2 linked regions of the Homo sapiens genome follow. The protein of the gene in region 1 purifies or fractionates together with the protein of each later gene. This does not show direct contact. Each region holds a gene or a part of one and is shown in the gene's direction. Other genes may lie near its edges. The genes, in order: BPNT2 and PON2.

Region 1 (8,208 bases):
TAAACTAAGATTTTCTTGGTAGACATGATGACATATTTAGAATTGGGAGGTAGAATTTCCAGGACTTACTGACTGATTCGATGTGGCACGCGAGAAAGGATTGAGGAAGACTTTCTGGTGTTGACCATAGCAACTATTGATAAGGTTGTTTACATTGGTGGGTAGTAGATTTTTCAGATTTGTAGGTATGTAGTGGTTGCGGCCGGTTATAAATAGCAGTTACTCAAAAGCAGATTAGGTATTTGTGCTAATGTTCTTGTTCTCCTGCTGTTTCTCCCTAACCCGATTCTCAGTGAAGATCTTTTCAAATACTGTTCTATAATGTGTTCGCTCATACTCAGCTGCAAGTACATGGAGAAGCTGACTTGAATTGTGCAAAAAATCAGTGAAGCTCAGTAGTTGCCAGACTTGGCACTGCCGTTTTGTAAGCTACAGTGGTTAAGGCCCATAAGCTACTTCGTCTTTTCTAGGAGTCATGTTTCTTTTTTTTTTGAAGTTTATTCCTTTTTGCATGGTGTTACTGTTATCTTCATTCATCTGAGGTAGTCTGGCATTGTTGTTAAGAGTGGTTTCTGAAGCCAAAATGCCTCACCAGTGCCACACTGTCTTAATTATTCTGGTCTTGATATCTGGTAAGGTAAGTCACCACACCATGATGGTATTTTTTTTCCCCTCTTCCCAAAATGTTGTGTTGCTTCTTGACTTTTTGTTCTACCATGTAATTTTCAGAAATGCCTTGTCCAGTTTCCAAGGAGAAGGTTAAAAAAAACCAACAACAACAAAAAACACTGGGGATTTTGATTGGAGTTGCATTTATCTGCAAGCTCTTTTAGATTTTCTCAGTGCTCAATAATCAACTTCATATTATGGATTGGTTTTTCTTTCTAAACTTTGTACCTCCCCACTTGCTCCTCTCCCCCTCCCTTTAGCTTACTGCAATGACTAGGACCCTCTGCACATTGTTAATAGCTGTTATGATGGAGGGCAACTGGCTCTGTGTTGCAGCCTGCGAGGTCCTTCACCATCTGGCTTCCATTACTCTCTGACCTCAGCTCCTTAGCCTTTCTCCTTGGCTCACTCTGCTGTAGCCTTGCTGGCCTCCTTGCTGCCCTCTGAACACACCAGGCACATTCCCACCTTAGGATCTTTTCATTTGTTATTTATTGGGCTAGAATGCACTTCTAGATGCCTGCCAGGCTTATTTTCTTTAGATCTCTTCAGTCAAATACCACCTTTTCAGTGAGGGGCTTCTCTAGCTACATTACTTTTTTTTCAAAACAACTTCATTGCAGCATAGTTTTTATATCTTACAATTTGTCTATTTCAAGTATACAATTCAGTAATTTTTAGAACTGCCAAATTGTACAACTATCATCATTAATCAGTTTTAGAACATTTTCACCACCCTAATAATACCCCTGACCCCATTAACTGTTTATTCTTGTTTTTATCCCTTATCCCAGGCAACCACTAATCGGTCTTTCTCTATAGATTTGCCTTTCCGGACATTTTACATTAATGGAATCAAACAGTATATGATCTCTTGTATGTTGATGCTTTCACAAAGCAAGGGGGTTCATCCATGATTTAGCATGATCAATACTTTATTCGTATATATGGCTGAGTAACTTTCCATTGTATGGATATACCAAATATATTTATCCATTCATCAGGGTAATGGATAAACTACTAATTGATGGAATTAGTAGTTTTCTGATTTTAGCCATTATGAATAATTGCCTAGCCACCCTTTCTTAATACTATCTACCCCTTTTTCTTAAAGAATAACCCTTCCACTACTCTCTAACAGTCCTTTCTCTACTCTCCAACAACACTCTTTCTGTCCTTTTGGTCTTTATTTTTTCCTCCTTATCACTATCCAGCATACTACATGTTTTTTCATGTGTCTCGTTGTTTATCTATACTAGAATCTAAGTTCCACAGGGCAGAAATTTTTGTCTCACATTGATCACTGTGGTATCTTTAAGACCTGTAACTGTGTCTGTCATATAGTAGGCAATCAATAAGCATTTGCTGAATTAATAAAGACATAAGTGAATAAATTGAATGTTTACTTTGCTCTGTACTGAGAAATATTTAAAGATTTACCAGGCGCGGTGGCTCATGCCTGTAATCCCAGTACTTTGGGAGGCCGAGGCGGGCAGATCATGAAGTCAGGAGATCGAGACCATCCTGGCCAACACGGTGAAATCTCGTCTCTACTAAAAATACAAAAATTAGCTGGGTGTGGTGGTGGGTGCCTGTAGTGCCAGCTACTCGGAGGCTGAGGCAGGAGAATCACTCGAACCCGGAAAGTGGAAGTTGCAGTGAGCCGAGATTACACCACTGCACTCCAACCTGGTGACAGAGCGAGACTCCGTCTCAAAAAAAAAAAAAAAAGAGATATTTAATGATTTAAGCGGTTTGATGTTTCTAGAATATTAGTATTTTTAACCTCTCCTGTGATAATTTGGGGTGTTTCAGGGTACCTTCTGGAGATTGGTGATAGTTATATTTTTTAAAATCATGTCTGTGTCTCTGCAACTTTCTGAAGACTATAGGTGAGAGATGTTGTATTGACAATACTCATGTATTGTCAGTGCTGTAATCGCTTTGGCACTGTAGCGTGGGGTCTAGGCATGGCATCACATGTAGCATAAACATGACCTACTCTGGAAAGGGAGCTTGTCAGAAAGCACAGGACCCAACAGCCTGTCCTGCTGAGAGTGTAAGTCCCTAACTAAAATCAAAATTTTGGGGACATTTTTTCTTGTGTGTGTGTATGATGATGTGATAGAAGTCTCATGGTGAGGCAGTATTCATATAAGATTGATGATCTGTTATTAACTTAATTCTTAAAGAACACTCAATTCTTAGATTTAGTCAATTGGTATATGCCAGTTTACAAAAGTAAATGCAGTTCTAAAACATTTTTTTATTATTATTTATTTTTTGTTTTTTTTGAGATGGAGTCTTGCTCTGTCGCCAGGCTGGAGTGCAGTGGCGTGATCTTGGCTCACTGCAACCTCCACCTCCAGGGTTCAAGTGATTCTCCTGCCTCAGCCTCCCGAGTGGTTGGAACTACAGGCACGCACCACCATGCCTGGCTAATTTTTGTATTTTTAGTAGAGATGGGGTTTTACCATGTCGGCCAGGATGGCCTTGATCTCTTGACCTCGTGATCCAGCCGCCTCGGCCTCCCGAAGTGCTGGGATTACAGGCGTGAGCCACCACACTTGGCCAAAACATTATTTTTAAAACACTGTTTTACAAATTAGACTAATTTTAGGATGCATTAAGAAGCACACTGTTGAAAACAGTGTTTTTTACATAGGATGGGACAGGGGCGCACTTGACAATGTCCGGAGACATTTTTGTTTGTCACACCTGAGGGTGTTGTTGCTGGCATCTGGTGCGTTCTAGTGGCATTCAGCCAGGGATGCTGTTAAACATCCTACAATGCACAGGACAGCCCCACAACAAGGAATTATACAGTCCAAATTGTCAGTCGTGCCAAATTGAGCAATCTCAATTTAAAGGAATCTGTAATGTGTTTGTAAATGAATAGAATACTTACATAAAGTATTATACAAACACATGTATATATATGTTATATGTAGAAATAATATATAATATATATTATACAGAGAGAATATATATGTGTAAGGGGGGTTTGTGTGTGTGTGTGTGTGTGTGTGTGTGTGTGTATATGTATGTATGTAAGGGTGTGGGGTAAGGAGAGAATATATTCCTTAAGGAGAGAATATATTCCTCTATTCTCGTAACAACCCTTCCTCTACTTATATTTCTCTCCTTACCCCACATCCTTACATATCTGTATGGTAAGTTAAATTTATTTTATCTTTTAATTTTGTTCCTTAGTTAAAAAAAAAAAGGTAGAAAATTTGACTGTACCTCCCTATTCTATGATACGTCTTTCTTCTAACTCTAGTTGCTTGTGTTGTGTTCCAGAATATTGTCTATTTTCACACTTTAGAGCTATTATCTTTCATAAAGCATTGTTAAGGTTTAAGTAGCTTGTTTCTTCAATGCTCAGTTTCTCTATATTTCTCTATATCCGAATTATCTGTCTTGATTAGTCAACAAACCAGGCTTGAATATTAGATTGGGAAGCATTTAAAGACCTGATGTCATGGATTTTTTTTTTTCATTTTCATTTTCATTTTGCAATATGGAGCATCAAAAGAAATAAAAATAGGGATTTACTTATTTATAATTTGGGTGATTGTTGTCTGAAATACTTTTGTAGTTTATCAAATAGTGATTGTTCGTCTTACTTTTTTTAACTGTCACCTGTTTTTAATGCAGATTAATACTGAGGAACACGTGGATGCAGCTGATCAGGAGGTTATCTTGTGGGATCATAAGATTCCTGAGGATATCCTAAAGGAAGTAACTACTCCTAAAGAGGTACCAGCAGAAAGTGTTACTGTCTGGATTGACCCACTTGATGCTACACAGGAATATACAGGTAATTTTTAAACTGAACTCAAAACATTTGATTGACGTTTAGTAGTAGAGAACCAGAACCAAGGCATACTTCCTATAGGTGATAGTGGCTCACTGATTGTTCAGTAAAGAAGCATTTTTAACAGTAGTAGCAAAATGTTTTATATTGGACACCTATAATTGAAGAAACTTCTTTAGCCAGAATTTAATGTTTACTCGGGATGTTAGGAATTTAAGTTTTAATGCATGTACATCTGACTTTGGAATTCAAAATAGTAAATTTCTAGGTACCCAGAAGGCAAGTAAGTAACAAAACAGAACTACTGTCCCTCCAGTCCCCTTTTTTACCTAGTCCTAGTCAGATTTTATTTTTGTAGATCCCCTCTCAGGCCTTGTTTCTTACCCACAGGTAGCTAATTTCTGCCTTTTCACTCTTCATTTGGTTTATATGTTACAGTTTATCTATTTATCCTGATAGATGGTAAGTTCTGTAAATGTGGAGCCTTCTACCTTTTTACCTTTGTATTTCAGTGCTTTTGCACTGAACTTGAACCATAACAATCAATACATAACTTTGGAGAACAGGGAGAAGACACTAGATGTATATATCTAATAGTAACTAAAATTACAGCACAGAACTTTTCAGGAGTAGATAATAGAAATATGGAATATCGAGAAATTTGTTCATAAAAAGTTCTCCTAAACTGAGATTGGCCTGTTCATATAGTAATAACATTTAGTGAGCACATCCCTCGTGCAGGGACTTTCTTAAGCATCTAATTTGATTTTTTTTATTAAAAGTTAATTTATACCTAAAGATGAGTGCTTAGTTATTGTTTATATTATACAGACAAGGAAGCTGAATTTAAGTAATTTACTCAAGGACATTCAGTTAACAAAATGGTGGGCTAGGAGAATAACCCAGGTAATGCCTGTAGAACCAGAACTCTTTTGTTTGTGTGATTTTTATAATATAAAAGGGTCTTGACTCTAAATGCAATTTGTTTTAAAACTTTTAAGTTCAGGAGTACAAGTGCAGGTTTGTTACATAGGGTAAACTTGTGTCATGAGGGTTTGTTGTACAGATTTGTTTCAACACCCAAGTATTAAGCCTAGTATCCATTAGTTATTTTTCCTGATTCTCTTCCTCCTCCCACTCTCTATCCTCTGAAAGGCCCCAGTGTGTGGTGTTCCCCTCTATGTGTCCATGTGTTCTCATCATTTAGCTCCCCACTTAGAGAACATGTGGTATTTGGTTTTCTGTTCCTGTGTTAGTTTGCTAAGGATAATGGCCTCCAGCTCCATCCATGCCCCTGCAAAGGACCTGATCATGTTCTTTTTTATGGCTGCATAGTATTGCACGGTGTATATGTACCACATTTTTTTTTTTTTACCTGGTCTATCATTGATGGGCATTTAAGATGATTCCATGTCTTTGCTATTGTGAATAGTGCTGCAGTGAACATACACATGCATGTGTCTTTATAATAGAATGATTTATATTCTTTTGGACCAGTAATGGGAATGCTGGGTCGAATAGTATTTCTTTCTTCAGGCCTTTGAGGAATTGCCACACTGTCTACCACAGTGGCTTAACTAATTTACACTCCCACCAACAGTGTATAAGCATTCCTTTTTTTCCACAACCTCACTTGCATCTGTTATTTTTTGACTTTTTAATAATAGCCATTCTGACTAGTGTGAGATGGTATCTCATCGTGAACCAGAACTGTTAGCCACTCCTTTAAAGGGGCTCTTGCCCTCAGACTCTGTTTGCTTGAAGGGATTGTTGTTTTGGAAAGATATTTCATGTATATAAATTTTTTAATGAACTAAAGTGTAATATTGTATCTTGAATTTATGCACATTACTTTGACATTTGTGTGTGTTGTTTTGTTTTTTTTCTCATAGAGGATCTTCGAAAGTACGTCACTACTATGGTGTGTGTGGCTGTAAATGGTAAACCCATGCTAGGAGTTATACATAAGCCATTTTCCGAATATACAGGTATGAAATTTGCTAGAACTTTCAAGAATTATTGTTATTGAACTGTTTGTCTATAGTATTTACTGTCATGTACCTAAATTTGTATCCACTCCTATATTAGTTTCCTAGGGCTGCTGTAAGAAAAAAACACAAATTATGTGTCTTAAACAACAAAAATGTAGTGTCTGACAGTTCTGGAGCCTAGAAATCTAAAATCGTGGTGCTGAAACTGTAAGGGAGTATCTTTTTTGTTTCTTTTAGCTTCTGGCAATTTGCCAGCATTCTGTGGTGTTCATTGGCTTATAAGTGTTTATTCCAGTGTCTGCCTCCATCATCATATGGCATTCTCTCTGTGTGTCTGTGTCTCTTCTCCTCTTACAAGCACACCAGTCATATTGGATTCAGCGCCCACCCTACTCTAGTGTGACCTCATCTCAACGTAGTACATCTGCCATGACCCTATTTCTAAATAAAGTCAGATTTCAAGGTGCTGGGAGTGAGGATGTCAACATATCTTTTTGGGGGACACAGTTTAACCATAACAACCCAGAAAGTTAAGGTAAGCATTGAGATGAGATTATACTGGATTAGAGAAGGTTCTTAAGCCAATTAGAGTGTTTTTATAAGAAACAGAAAGGACATAGACACATGTGGGATAAGATGATGTGAAGGTGGAGGCAGAGATTGGAGTGATGTCTTTAATAGGCTAAGGACTGCAGTCACCAGAAGCTAGGAGAGAGCCATGGAAGTTATTTTCCCTCAAAGCCTCCAGAAGAAACTAACCCTGCTGACCCCTTGATTTTAGACTTCTGGCCTTTAGAATTATAAGAAAATACATATATTTTTATAAGCCACCAAGTTTGTGGTACAGATTGAGTATCCATTATCTGAAACGTTTGGGGACCAGAAGTGTTTCACATTGCAGATTTAATGTATTTGCATATATATAATGAGATATATTGGAGATAGGACCCAAGTATAAACATGAACTTTATTTATATTTCATATATAGCTTGTTTACATAGCTTGAAGGTAATGTTATACAACATTTTAAATAATTTTATGGTTGAAGCAAAGTTCTATCTGTGAGCTATCATGAGGTCCAGTATGGAATTTTCCATTTGTGACATCATGTCAGTGCTTTCCTGGATTTTGGAGCATTTCAGATTTTGGAATTTTGGATTAGGGATTCTCAACCTGTAGTTTTTTATGGCAGCTTTAGGACACTGATACAATGGGCATCCCATACTACCATCGTTTACTGCAGTCATCCCCATTGTGTCTTAAGGGCGTGACTGATAATTGCATAAAAAGGCTGTCTGTGAAGTGGGGAGAAATGGAAAGACAAAGTTAATTTTTGATTACTCTAAAATTATGTATTTGTTTTGCTGAATAACTGTGAATCCCAAATTCTGGCTGCTCTGAGATTGGCTAAACATCTATTTGAGTGTTGGCTCTGTGTTTCAAAATCAAGTCCACTTTGTGCTATCTGACCTTTTTTCTTCTTTTCATAATTCAAATAATTTTTAAAGTTGATGGTTTGATAAGCTACAAAAGATTTATGCCATTGCTATGACAATATACTGTAAGATTAATTATATAATTGCTTTATGGCTTATGGATTACCTTCACATATTTTCCTTAATCCTTACTGAATTAGTTAGGATACACACTAGGCCGTTAATTTAGACTGCTGTAATGTACACCAAAATATATGAGGTTGAATACAAAGTAGTTTATTTTTCTCTTCTC
Region 2 (8,208 bases), on another chromosome or scaffold:
GATTAACATTTTAATTAGAAACTTTATGTCTGATATGAATTGCCAAAATGTGTAGTTGGTACAACCTATGAGTCATTCTGGGTTATCTAGAAGAAACTGGTAGCCTGCCCCATACTCCAGAAGCCTTCCCCAGTGTCTAGACCTCAGAAGCTGTCAGGAATATGCACAGGAGAAGGACACATGGCAAATAGCTATTTCGTCTCTTAAATGTATGGTATGTGGGAACCACTGAAAAATGTAAAGTTTCTACAAGGTGCTATTTTTATTATTTATGGCTCTAGAGAACAGAGAAGGTGAAAAATGTGAGAGAGAAGGGAAAGCCAATAGTATGTGGCCTTCAAAACAAAAGATCCCACAGATATTGTCCCAAACTGCTTCCTGGCCCTCTAGAGTGGAGAGGGAGGGGGAAGACATCCTATTAGAGTTCAACATTCTCTTATTATTTCCTTCTTTTAATTTTCTGGGTATACAACAGCAAATAGTTTTGCTGAAGTAGTTACAGAACTAGTTGGTGTTCTCCAACCTTCCTATTCCAATACATACTGTCATGGATGGGTACACTAAAATCTCAGAATTCACTGCTATATCACTCATCCATGTAACCAAAAACCACATGTACCCCCAAAAGCTATTGAAATAAGATAAATACATTCTTATTTAAAAAAATACTGTCATAGGGATGCTACCTTCTTTTCTTTTTTGTTAGTAACTATTTGTGGGATGTCTTTGGTGTGTCAGGCTCTGAGCAATGCCATTTTCTCTTGGCTTCTTTGCAGTCTCTGTGTGAGGCTTACAGTCATTTTTCACGTTTGACTCTTCAGAAGGAAGACAGGGCTACTGGTTCTACATCTGGAACTCTTTTCCCACAACACCAACACTGAGAAATGTGACATGGTGCTGTGTTTACATTTGCATAGGAACTTGCATTATAAGTTTTATTTGTTGAGTTATTGGCTTTTTTTTTTTAATAACCCACATCAGTATATAGAACTTTGCAATAGGCATTTTTGTTTTAACTTCATTTCTGGTGCAGTTTTATTTTCCTACCCTTGTCTTTCTATTTTCTCTTTCATCTGCTTTAGACTTAAACTGTGTTTTATGTATTGCTGTAAGCCTCTTTAAACCCTTTCTAAAACAAAGCAGGGAATACATAAACAAATAGTTTTTTGTTTTTTGTTTTTTTTTCTTTGTAACAGAAATCGACTTAAAGCCTCCAGAGAAGTAGAATCTGTAGACCTTCCACACTGCCACCTGATTAAAGGAATTGGTATGTATATGAAAATGCTTGTTGGGCACATTGCATTTTTTGGCCATTAACATTAAAACACTCATTAATGGCATTTTAGCATGAAATTACTGCTTTTCAGTGGATAAATCACATTAGATCAACAAAAACCTCTTTGGTCAACCTCTTGATCTGATGAACCCTGTATTTATTCTTCTTTCCTACCCTCACTGTAAATTATTCTTTTTTGTGTGTAATTCTATGTTTAGCATTTGATTTCTTGCTTGTTTTGTGACTTCTCTGAACTATTTTTGTTGCGTCTGTATTGTTTGTCAGGTATGGCCGCTGCAGTCTGTGTTCTGTGAGCCTTGTGGTCAGCTAGTGAAGGAAGCTTTATGTAGGCAGTGACAGCATTTACCCTGCTCACTACTCTATAACTAGGATCTGATCTTATGGCTAACACGTAACTGACCAATATGGTTTGGTTGTGTCCCCACCCGAATCTCATCTTGAATTGTAGTTCCCATAATCCCCACGTGTTGTGGGAGGGACCCAGTGAGAGGTCATTGAATCATGAGGTGGTTACCCTGTGCTGCTGTTCTCGTGATAGTGAGTGAGTTCTCATGAGATCTGATGGTTTTATAAGGGCTTTTCCCCCTTTTGCTCGGCACTTCTCCTTGCTGCCGCCATGTGAAGAAGGGTGTGTTTTCTTCCCCTTCCACCAAGATTGTAAGTTTCCTGAAGCCTCCCCAACCACACGGAACAGTGAGTCAATTAAACCTCTTTCCTTTATAAATTACCCGGTCTCAGGTATGTCTTTATTAGCAGCCTGAGAACGGACTGATGTACCGGCACTTCACAATATGTATTGTAAAAACTTGTTTTTATTTTATCTTCTAAGCTATGACTGCAGAGGGGGAGTCTCCCTCTTCCCTTGACTTTATGTAGGATGTATTGTGGAGTCTGAGTCTTTGAGTAGGGGTTCCTAAGAGCAAGCCCCAATTTTGCTATAGATAAGGAGGGATCTGTCCAGATTCTTCTCCAGCACTGAGGGTCTCTCTGGTGTGTTTGCAGTTTTTCTCCAAGGTAGAGTCTGTGTCTTGCTGTCTTTTACCCTTTATCATCTACTAAGTACATGTCCCTAGTACATAATAGACTAGTAGTTAGATTATCAATGAACAATAAATATTGGCTTTCCTTTTTTTTAAATTTTAATTTTTTTTTTTTTTTTTTTTGAGAGGTGGCCTCACTTTGTCACCCAGGCCAGAATGCAGTAGCGCAATCTTGGCTCACTGCAGCCCTGATATCCTGGGCTCAAGCGATCCTCCCGCCTCGTCCTCCCAGGTAGCTGAGACTACAGGCACATGCCCCCACTCATGGCTAGTTTTTTATTTTTGTAGAGACAGGGTCTTGTTATGTTGTCCAGGCTGGTCTTGAACTCCTGGCCTCAAGCAATCCTCCCAGCTTGGTCTCCCAAAGTGCTGGGATTGCAGGCATGAGGCACTGAGCCCAGCCAATATTGGCTTTCCTTAGATATGGTTCATGGTATGATTAGAAACAAAAAGAATTAGCAGTCAAAACACCTAGTTTCTAGTTCTATTCTGCCACAATGTAACCTTAGGCAAAGTTGGTTTTTGTATTTGTCACCTATAATGATGAGTTTGTGATTAGACTAATGGTTTTTAGACTTTAAAAAGCCTGGGACCATTTATTTATAATCTTACTCTGAGAGCCACAGTGTGGAAATAACTAGACTGTCATTGAGTCACTTCTAGTCCTTTACAACAACATCCTTCTCTAGAGGTAGGAGAGACAATTTAATATTTTGTTTTACTCTTTAGAAATTAAAACTCGGGTTACATGGAAATGTTCTCTTCTCTGAATAGGTAACATTGTTAAACAAGTTTTGAGTGTCCTTCCATCTTTTTCTTTTTATGAATACTCCTGTACATAATTTTTAAAAACATAAGTGAGGTCAAATTATGCATAATATTTCAAAACTAGCTTTTTGTACTTAATACTAGGTTTTGGAAACTTATGTTTGTACATAATGTTACCTTTTCTTCACAACTGCACAGTATTTTTTGTGCAAAGTTCATATAAACAGTGTATGTGCAAACAATATAGAAAGATATAAAATGGAAAGTAAATAAAAATAAAAATCTCTCATCAAACTCTTCATCACCCCCAACAGAAATAACCCCAAAGATAAAGCTCCCTTTTTTATCTTTCCTGATAGTTTCAGTGCATTTGCAAACAAATATATTGACTCTTTTTTTCACAAATAGAATTTTAGTGTAAATATTTCACAACCTTCTTCATTCCTAAAACAGTGTGAGCAGCTTTCCACATCAGCATATATAGTTACTTTGTTCTTTTTAATATTTTCACATTCCATGATTTATTTAACCATTCCCCTTTTAATGTACATTTGGGTTGTTACAGTTTTTTGCAACTATGAACAAATCAGTGAACATCATTGCTGTTGAGTTTGTGTGTCTGTAGAATATGTCCTTAACAATGGGATTGTTGTTCCCTTAGAATATGTGTTTAGAGTTTTGACAGTCATTGCTAAGTTGCTCTCAATTTGGCAACAGTAATAAACTCAGTACCTCATAGTTGTAACCACATTCACTCCAGACAGAGTTCTCAGCACTCTTTTAGTAAAAATAAACCATCAGTTGACAGTGCCACCTTCAGAGTTTCTCTACAAATACCTTGCTTGCCTCCCTTTCTTTTTTTCTTCTTTTAAATCAGCTTCCTCAGGTTGATCTGCCTCTCATTCCTTAGGCATCTGTTTCCTATGTGTTCTTTCTCCTTTTTTTCATTGATACTTTTGTATTTCCCCAGTTCTACCTCCCCTCCCCTAGACTGGTTGGCTGTCCTGGAATTTCCCTTCCTTCTTTCAATTGCCCAAACACTAAGTGGGAGGAGGCAAACTCATATCAAATAGCAGATTGACTACATCTGTGCTGGATCATGCAGACAGTTCAAGAGTCCCAAGTAACTTAGCAGCTTCATCTTGCCTTCCAGCTGCAATCAAGAAGAGCCCTCTCAGAACTGGTCACTCAGCAAAAGCCAGATGGCATTAGTAAAAGATGTTGGGCAAGGGTGGGAGTTTGGGCCAGTGATCTCTTAGGTTACTTTTGCTGCTGAGTTAATAATTGTCACATTATTAAACAGCCCTTGGCCCTGGGAAGCCCACCTTCTGTGAATACAAGTCTCAGAGTAGACAATAGGGCACAACCAGCCATGTTACATGACAGACTGCCAAGTGCATTCCTCTTACAACTCACTGGGATGGAGCGCTCCTCAGAGAAAAACAAGCCCAGCAACATTTGTATTCTGAACAGGCATCTGTCTATGTTTGTGACCTTTATGTTGTGATGTGTGTGAGCTGCTGTCTGGAATTGGAAAGAATGAGGAAATATGTCACCTATGGCCCCTCTTGTGAAGTGTTAAATGCCTCTGAGGCACTTCAAAAGGCAACAGAGCGGAGAGGATGAGTGATTAGAAGCACATTTGGGATACATTTTTAGATCTAATTAGAATTGTCCTTTTTTTTTTCTTTTTTGCTTTTGCCCTGTGGTTAGCACACACCATATGAACGTTTGTCGAATGCTATGTTAGTGATGCATAATGGTTAATAATAACTTTTGGTTATATATCTTTAACAACAGTTGCTTATTCACAGGTCTTTGATAAGAAGAAATAACAATGTGCTGGACACACATTTCTATACAGGCAAAAGTGACTTTTTATGATAGAGAGGGCTGTTTCTTATTTTCTGTTTTGAAAACAGTAGTAGCTATGCACTTGAGGCCAACTAATCCCTCTAAGAGGTGAACCTTCCTTCCCCCTTGCCCTTGATTCCCATCAACACACACATACATATGCACACACTACCGTGCTTCAGTCACCATCACTGGAAGTGAACTATGTGCAACTTTTGGGTGCTTTATATATATCATATCATATTGTGTCTGCTTTAATAAATCATAGTTATTGACTACATATCATACAGGATGTGTGCCTTCTGTGGGTCAGAAAATAAGTTCACTATTTAGTCCTTTTCAAAAATTCCTTCCCGATCTATCTTATAGACAGAAACTAAGCTTTTATACACCCAAGATTTGGCAGATTAACATCTGCATATTAAAATGTCAAGAGCTAGTTAACTTTATTTGAGGCTTAAAAGTTAAAAAATCTGATTTTCTAAATGTCTGGCCTTCAAAATTTGAGTGGACTGTCTTTCTCAAGATAACTAACAATTTTATGCACTTGGCAGTCAAGACCTTTACAATAACTGCTGCTTGGGAGATTGAGGGGAAAAAAGCATTAAAGTTTGTGGCCCTTATAATCAAGTACTTTACAGTCTACTGATGGGAGAAAAGGAAAACAAAACAAAACAAAAAACCACTGTGAGATATAGATATGTCTTTTCTTTCTCTAGCAGATAAGTACCTGAGGCTCAAGGAGGTTAAGCAACTTTTGCAAATTCACTTTCCAATATAGTGTCTTTTCCCAGGGTGACTAATGTATATACTTGATGAGTGAACCAGAAAAGTAGGAAATAATATGTTACATATGGGATGCTCTATTGGGTATAGTAAAGGATGCGTTGCTGTTATAAAATTATAGTCACTTAGAAAAGAGATGTTTATTTTTATTTTTCTCTCATCAGTCTTAAGGTAAGTGAATGGCCTAGGGTAGTTAGGTGACTGTGTTCCATATGGTCATTCAGGGGCAAATGCTGATGAAGCAACACAGCTGTCTTCATCTAAGACTAGAACTCTGCTTGTTGCCATTTCCCAGCAGGAAGGGGTTGAAAGAAAATTTATGTAGATTTTTTTTTCTACCCAGTAGTTGCATATATATTGTATTCTCACATCCTATTGACCCAAACTTAGACATATGGCCACATCTGTCAGCCAGAAAGGGTGGGCAATGTTATCTATAGCTGTGTTGCTACGTGCCTATTGCTAAAAAGGCTAAAAAGGAAGAAGGGGAACATGGATGCTGGTGAACACTTGGCCACCTCTGACACAGATAATTGCTAAAGTAATAAGAAGAGATGGAAATTAAATGTGCTAAGCTAGGAGACTTTCTAAAGAAAGGGTTTGTCATGCTACGCTGTGCCATTCATGTGTTTTTTTGCTCATGCTGTTCCTTGTGCCTGGAAATTCTCCCCCTAATTCCCCTGAGCAGTGGATGCAGTGGATACCCTCCCCAGATCCCCCCCAACTTCCCTGAGTGTTGGCTACCAAAAGCTCTGAGTGCACCCAGGGAGCTAAGTCCTCCTGCCCACAGGCAATAATGGACTGACACGGGGTAGACTTAAAGAAATAAGAGGCACATCAATCAATTGAAATGTGTGGGACCTTACCTGGACTCTGAATTAAACAAACTGTAATTTTTTAAAGCTACACCTTTTAAACATGATTGGCTATTTGAACACTAACTAGATATTTGATGATATTGAGGAATTATTGTGAATTTTTAGTGTAGTAATGATATTGTGGTTTGTATAAATATATTTAGGGATAATATGATGCCTCAGATTTGCTTTAAAATAACACAGGATGAGGATAAGTGGTAGGACTGCAAGGGAAACAAGACTGGCCATGAGCTGATAACTGTTGAAGGTGGGTACTGGGTATATAAGGGCTCACCACACCATTCTCTTGATTTGTGTCTATTTCCCATAATAAAAAGTTTAAAGAGAGAGAACCGATGAAGGGGAGGGAGAGAGTCAAGCACACAATAAGAGTGACAAACAGTGCCAAATCAGCCCACAGTATTAAGTTTTCACATATTTACATAAATATCACCTGGAATGCAATATTGAAATTAATGTATATCACTAGAATAAAAAAAGTAAAGATTTAATAAATTTGTTTTGAAATAAAATAAGTTGAAATACGAAAAAGACAGAAAAGGTTTTGAAAGAGGTTTTAAAGAAAAGTGCAGGATATTCATTGGTAAAGATGTTGGTGAGAGGCTTGGAAGCAAAACTTCAGGGGAAAAAGACAACATATGGAATTGACCACAATTGAATTTACAAGTGAAGTGGCTTTACAGAGGAATCAGGGGATGTTTCTGAGAGAGGAAATTCATTAAATTCTAACTTGAATATTTTCTGTTTGCCTTTAAGTCAGAGCAAAGGCTTTGAGTCCCAGCTTCCCAGTTTGTGACCTTGAGCAATTGCTTAACTTTTCCAAAGCCTCCAATAGTCTTCACTCTAAAATAAAAGATAATCATATGAGATATTGTATGCAGGGTATTTACAAGGAGCCTGGTACTTGGTGTACCTAATGTATGTTAGTTATTATTATTAAATTAGAGGAGCAAAAATTTCTCTAGCATTGACTGCTCCTGACATAATCACACCGAAGAGGGGATACACGATGATAAAACCTTCCTGCAGTAGTGGCTATAGAAATGATGACGGGGAGAAGATCTGGAAAATATTCCAAAGAAGGCTACAGATAGATACATTTTTTCCATTGGAATTAGGCAATGGAGTTAAACAGAAGTTACAATATGGTTGAAATAAATGTATTTTTTTAAAAAAAGATTTCTCTTTCCTTAATTATTAAAAAATATACAATTTTGTAGAAAATTTTAAACAAAGTATAAAGAAAAAAATAAAAATCATTCATAATCCTATCAAAGAAGCATTGTTAATTTTTTCTATATATCTTCTTTTTCCACGTGTATACTTGGAAATTAAATTTTCTAAAATAATTTTCAGGAAAAACAAATTTTAATTAATTGAGCTTCTACTAAATAGGACTGAAAAGCAAAACCTGGACTAGAATTCTCTCTCGGTGTGTGTGTGTGTGTGTGTGTGTGTGTGTGTGTGTCTGTGTGTACATGTGTATGTGCTGTGTATACATGTGTATGTGGTGTAGCGTTCCCCTGATTCTTAACTTATTACCAGTGGACAACCACCGTGGAACTAGAGTCTAGTCATTCTTAAC

Evidence for each region.
Region 2: the proteins of BPNT2 (region 1) and PON2 purify together in Homo sapiens (affinity purification with mass spectrometry; 2 studies listed by BioGRID and IntAct, with this or other methods). This does not show direct contact.

The regions. Positions count from the first base shown.
Region 1 is NC_000008.11:56,976,319-56,984,526, reverse strand, and holds part of BPNT2 (Golgi-resident adenosine 3',5'-bisphosphate 3'-phosphatase), read left to right. Parts: intron 1-4,329; coding exon 4,330-4,492; intron 4,493-6,381; coding exon 6,382-6,477; intron 6,478-8,208. UniProt on the Homo sapiens protein: Exhibits 3'-nucleotidase activity toward adenosine 3',5'-bisphosphate (PAP), namely hydrolyzes adenosine 3',5'-bisphosphate into adenosine 5'-monophosphate (AMP) and a phosphate.
Region 2 is NC_000007.14:95,417,574-95,425,781, reverse strand, and holds part of PON2 (serum paraoxonase/arylesterase 2), read left to right. Parts: intron 1-1,196; coding exon 1,197-1,267; intron 1,268-2,093; exon of another isoform or gene 2,094-7,466; intron 7,467-8,208. UniProt on the Homo sapiens protein: Capable of hydrolyzing lactones and a number of aromatic carboxylic acid esters. Has antioxidant activity. Is not associated with high density lipoprotein.